2 separate regions of the Homo sapiens genome follow, and region 1 is linked to region 2. Evidence: fine-mapped expression QTL. A gene starts in region 2. The other region holds a variant in brackets. All regions are shown on one strand. Distances are from middle to middle. Region 1 overlaps C16orf46 (chromosome 16 open reading frame 46). Region 2 holds the start of CMC2 (C-X9-C motif containing 2).

Region 1 (2,905 bases), 56 kb after region 2:
AGAGAAAGGATGGCTGCATCTCAAACGGTGCTTATTCCCAGGGGTTCTACCGCAACCGCTCAGAGGATCCTGTGGGTAGAGACAGGAATGATAACTCTGCTCACTGTGAGAGACGGCAAGACAGGTCTTGGGAAAACTTTGGTCTCCAGCATTTGGGGCCTGTTTTCCTGCTTGGCCTTTGGGAGAACATGCTTTCGGGTGATCACAGGAGATCTTGGCTCCTTGGCTTTGAATTTGGATTTGTAGCTTTGCACTCCCCGTTTCTGCAGAAGCTGCAAGGCAGCAAGGTAGCGAACGTTGCTGGGGTCTGGAGGGCACGCCAGGTTTTTCTCAGACAGGAGGGACCAATGCAGGCAGCGCTGCTCCGGATCGGTCAGCAGGGATATCTGGGCCGCTGGGGAAGGGGAGGATGGCGTGTCGTTGACCATAGGGTGTTTGGCCAGCTCACTGGCTCTTTTTTCACCTTTCCCATCTGCTGTTTTCAAGCCATATGCATAAGCCACACACCCATCCTTTTCCACATCCAGCACCTTCTCTTCTGACTGCAAGAAAGAGTTCTTACTCTTCTTACCCAGAACATCCAAAGCATTTGAAAGTGAAGCCTTCAGGGGAGGCAGAACTAGGAGGGCCCTGGAAGTCAGGGGGCCTGGGATGGACAGCCCTCTGTGGGCCCCTCCACTGGGATTCCCAGAGGCCTTGCCCCTATTAGTGCCGGGGATGGCCCAGTCTTTGTTGCACCAAATAAACTCCTTGATTTGCAGACTTTTTTTCTCTGCTCGAAAGTAGGTGGGAAAGCAGATGTCGCTAATTGCCCTGGAAGCAGTGCTGGGGCCCTGGGGGGCTGCCTGAGTCTGGGAGGGGCTGCTCTGATCCTTCTCTGGGCCCCCCTCAGTAGGAGGCTTGGTCTGGAGGCTCCAGTGGGAGAGGTTAACACACACCAAGCAGTCGCTGCAGGCACCTTCCCCTACCCTCGCCTTTTTTGGTATCTTCCTCGGCCAGATGCAGGCAGCTGGAGAAGTCCTTCCCCACCCTTGGACCTGCAAATAAAGCGGCATGTTACTCCTCCAGCTGAGGGGCCCAAACTGTCCTTGCCCCAATTTTGGCCACATTCCCATTTTGGCAGTCTTATGTGAAACAATATTCTTATTTTTATTTATTTTTTTACTACCCCTTCCCCCACTAATAATTTTCTTAAAATTCATTCACTTAAAAAAAAAATCCTTCAAAGTTGCAAAGCATGAAAAAGTGTAATACCTACTTTCACCGCTATAAAGCAATAACAGTATTTGTAATAGTATTTGTTAATCCTAAATACTAGCAAGAGCATTTGTTAATACTAAAACACTAAGCAACAGTATTTGTAAATGGCCACTTTGATGTGCTGACTATATTTCTTTTCAAA[T/G]GCACATTTAAATTTGAAGCCATTAAAATAAAATGAAAACCGTTCATACTTGTCCCACCAACAAGGATTTCGGGCACCGCCAGTCTCTGCTTCCCTTACCTGGGGAACACTGTTGCTTGGAGAGGCTGGAGGGAGACCGAGGAGCAGAGGCAGGTCCTGGAATGCAGAGGAGCCCTGCGTACCCAGGGATACCTACTCCCCATACACGCCCAGAGTCCTCTGGCTGATCTTGCCACAGAGATCACCATTAAAAAAGGGTTGCCAGTAAAAATATAGGACCACATTTTGGACATACTTATACTGATAAATTAGGTATTTATCTGGTAATCCTATGTTTAATCACTGGATTAGACCAAGTTTTCTCATAGTTTTATGCTTTTTTTTTTTTTTTAGTTTTCTTATAGTTTTAAATATAGGATTCTATTGTTGATTCTATGAATTGTTTAAGAGTAAGCCTGCAGACCAGGCGCAGTGGCTCAGGCCTGTAATCCCAGCACTTTGGGAGGCTGAGGTGGGCAGATCACCTAAGGTCAAGAGTTTGACACCAGCCTGGCCAATATGGTGAAACCCCGTCTCTACTAAAAATACAAAAATTAGCTGGGCATGGTGGGCACCTATAATCCCAGCTACTCAGGAGGCTGAGGCAGGAGAATCGCTTGAACTCAGGAGGCAGAGGTTGCAGTGAGCCAAGATCGCGCCACTGCACTCCAGCCTGGGCGACAGAAAGAGACTCCATCTCAGGGAAAAAAAAAAAAAAAAAAAAAACCCACAGAGTTCTGAGTAGAGCCATTAGGAAAGAAGCCTCAGTTCTCTCAGGGAGTTCAGCACAGCTGCTAAGGAGCTCAGGGTTCTAGAGTCCAGGAGACCTGGATTCAAGCCCTGCCTTGGCCACTTATTGGCTGGGTGATCTCGAGCATGTAACTTTATCTTCCAAGTGACTCAGTATACTCATCCACAAAGCGAGGCTGGGAAGAAAACTTGCCCCATATGGCTATTGAGAGGTTAGATGAATTAATGTATCCAAAGTACTTAGTACTGTGCTGTCCACATACTAAGTGGCCATAAATACCCACAGTAGGTGCTGCTCTTATCATCAGTAATATTTTACCTCAATTCCAGGGTTTCTACATGTCATTGATTCCACATTTTTTGGTAATATTAACTATTTTTGGGAAAAAGAGGCTTGCACCAAAACACTGATGTGCGAGAGACAGAAAAGCTGTGACTCAGAAAGATACTCACTGCCTCTTCCCATCCAGTTCCAATAATAAACTCTTTGGCTTTTTCATCTTGTTCAAGCGTAATGTCACTGACATCGAGAAGACAATAAACATGATTTTTTTCACTTTTTCCATCTGGACAAGTATAGGTTGGTTCTGTTTCTTCTGTGAACTGAATTTCATTATTTTCAGCATTTTCTAAGTCAGTCTCATTTTTCTGACAGAGATCCATTACTGTGATGCTTGCTTAAAGTTTTTAACATCTTCTTGCTGTTTAAAAACA
Region 2 (2,905 bases):
AGGCAGGCAGATCACTTGAGGTCAGGACAAGCCTGGCCAACATGGTGAATCCCCGTCTCTACTAAAAATACAAAAATTAGCCAGGCGTGGCCTGTAACCCTAGCTACTCAGGAGGTTGAGGCACGAGAATCACTAGAACTCGGGAGGTGGAGGTTGCAGTGAGCCGAGATCGCGCCACTGCACTCCAGCCTGGGCGACAAAACAAGACGCCGTCTCAAAATAAAATTTAAATATATATATATATAAATAAATAACATAAAACATTTTTAAGGCCTACATTTCGGCCCTGGTATTAAAGAATTATTTTTCAACTTTTCAAGCTATGAGCCATACTGCAGCAGAGGTCGCAGACACGGTCGGGGACGGCCTCCCCTGCCCACTTCCACTTATCACAGGACCAGTTCTAAACCGATACCACTAAGAAAGCGACTGGCGCTGGCACTGTAGACCCCATGCCAGGCTGCTTCTGGGAGGGACCCGGGGGTGCTGCCTAGGGAGAAGGGCTTAACTACTCTGACTTCCACCGAAGAGTTTCTCAGAGAATGCGCCCTCGCAGCTTTCCCTGAATAAACATTACCAGGACTTACAAGGTGCCTAGCACTCTGCCAGAATCATGTGAATTTCAGAGGAAAATACTCGTTCACACATCTCAAGGAACGCACAGGCTCGTGAGGGAGCATTCTTGCCAATGCACATGGTAAATGCCCAATCGATGTTCGCGGAATGTCAGAAACTGACAACTAGTTCAGGCCTCAACGCAGTAGGAAAAGGATGAAAAAGAAACTCATTTTAAATCAACTAAACAAGTGCAAAAGCCATACATATAAAGGAGAGGAGATACGAATGGCATCACAACATAATTCCTTTGCCATCGAAAACTTCCATGCCTTTGAGGTTTTAAATGAAGACTTCCAAAACTGATTTACTTAAGACTCTACGTAAAACGCCTGATCTTTAAACGCAAGAAAAGCAAGATGAATGTATTACTTTCCTGGAAAAAAAAAGCATTAAAGGAGAAAAAAGAGTAAAGTGTACTGATGGGGCTCTTGGTGGGTTCTCACATCACAGGGCACTGCAGCTGAGACTTGCTTGAACGGCCCCCGTTTTCTACCCGCAAATTCTCAATTGCTAGATAAACAACAATAACAACACTTTATTGGGCGCTCATCGTGTCAAACCCTGTGTTGAGGGCTCCATTCCTCAAGGTCCATTTTACCGGCGAGGAAGCCCCGGCTCCGGGAGGGGAGGAGCGCGCCCAAGGTCACCAGCCAGTTGAGTGAGTGGCGGGCGGATCCCAACCCCGAGCGACGCCCACGGCCTGTCTCGGCCACCAGCGTGTTCCAGCGAGCGCCCAGCCACCTCGCTCGCAGCCTCCCCAGCGCAGCAGCCCGGCTGTGGGCCTGCGGCAGCCGGGTCTTCCTGGTCCCCACCTCCTGGGGCCGACGGGCGGCAGGAAGGGGCTCGGCGGGACGCGCCATCAGGGACCTGAGGAGGAACAACGGAACGCGTTCGGAACGGCCTGGACTCCCGAGACTCACCCGACTCGTGGCCACACCGGGAGAACTGAAGCGGCAGTAGCCGGCGGAGACGCCCGACCCGAAGGCCGGCTGCTAGGGAGCAGACAGCTGAACCGCTTGCCAGACGCCGAAACCCAGTGACGCCCTCCACCGCTCCACCGTGCTCCCGGCTCCTCGCCCCCGCCGCCCGCGGGCCCCAAGGCGCATGCGCCGCCTGTCCTGGAGGGGCCCATTTCCGTCCGTCGTGGGGGGAGGCACAGTGAGTCCACTGGGGCACGGCAGCGTCTAAGCCACAAGCCGAGCACATAAGCCAGGTCCTAACGGAGCCTATGTGTAAGTCCACTACTGGTGCAAGGTTGCACACTTCTAAGAAGAGCGGCGTGGGGGGCTCGGCGACCTTCGCTTCAGTCGCTCCCCCGTGCAGTCCCCTGTGCCCAAGACACAGCCTGATGCTTGTGCTCCGGTGGGCGGAGCTTGGAGGCGGCGGGAACTGCAATTGGTGGCTTTGAAGGCGCGGCGAGCGGGAACAGCTCTTGAGGAGTGAGACTGCAGGAGATGTGGGCCGGTAAGAGAGCCCCGGGCGGCACTGGATCGGGCCCCGGAGGGTGTGGGGCCTTGAGGAAGCCAGATCCCAGGCCTCGGGGGTGGCTTTTTCGCAATTGTCGCACGTTGTGAGGCGCAGGATTGGCGCTGGGTCTCGGGCTCGGGGCGAGGAACTACGGTTCGGGCCGAGGTGAGGGGGCGGTGGCGCTGTGCCGGCTGTGACGTCACCTCGCCCGCGGTGGGGCGGGTGGAGCCTTTCGTAGGCTCGCGACTGCGTCAGGGGAGGGCCGTGTGGTCATGTGACCAGGGGCTCCGCTCTACGATCCTGGGGTTGCTTCCTTTCCCAGAGTTGGGGTTTTGCTTTTCTGTCACCTCGGCTTCCGTCGTTTTTTGTCCCTGTACCCTCTTGCGTTGCTCCTCGCATTGCCTGTTGGAGCGCAGCAGAGGTGTGTGGCTACGGGAACGTTACTTAAAATGGATCTTTTTGATCATGCGTTCCACAGATCTTGAGCATCTACTGTATGTCAGACACTAAAACGCTAGGAAGTATAAAGAAAGTTTTAAAATGGGGCCAGGCGCGGTAGTTTACGCCTGTAATCCCAACACTTTGGGAGACCGACGTGGGCGGATCACCTTAGGTCAGGAGTTCGAGACCAGCCTGGCCAACATGGTGAAACCCCGTCTCTACTAAAAATACAAAAATTAACCGGACGTGGTATCGGGTGCCTGTAATCCCAGCTATTTGGGAGGCTGAGGCAGGAGAAGCGCATGAACCCGGGAGGCGGAGGTTGCAGTGACCCGAGATCGCGCCACTGCACTGCACCCTGGGCGACAAAGCGAGACTG

The links. PIP is the estimated chance that this variant, and not a neighbour inherited with it, causes the effect.
Region 1: its variant is fine-mapped to the expression of CMC2 in whole blood (TOPMed, PIP above 0.99).

Annotation. Positions count from the first base shown.
Region 1 is chr16:81,061,102-81,064,006 of GRCh38, forward strand. C16orf46 (chromosome 16 open reading frame 46) reads right to left here. Exons shown (of 4, transcript NM_152337.3): 3 at 2,645-2,892; 4 at 1-1,037. The coding sequence starts at 2,854. The coding sequence ends at 60. Among named protein-coding and RNA genes, the nearest start is that of C16orf46-AS1, 9.5 kb to the right of the region's middle. The variant T/G (reference allele first, on the strand shown) is at 1,403.
Region 2 is chr16:81,005,196-81,008,100 of GRCh38, forward strand. It overlaps CMC2 (C-X9-C motif containing 2), which reads right to left and starts at 1,690. Exons shown (of 4, transcript NM_020188.5): 1 at 1,539-1,690. CENPN (centromere protein N) reads left to right here and starts at 2,019. Exons shown (of 11, transcript NM_001100624.3): 1 at 2,019-2,082. RefSeq lists a silencer at 1,428-1,797 and enhancers at 1,968-2,077, 2,388-2,527.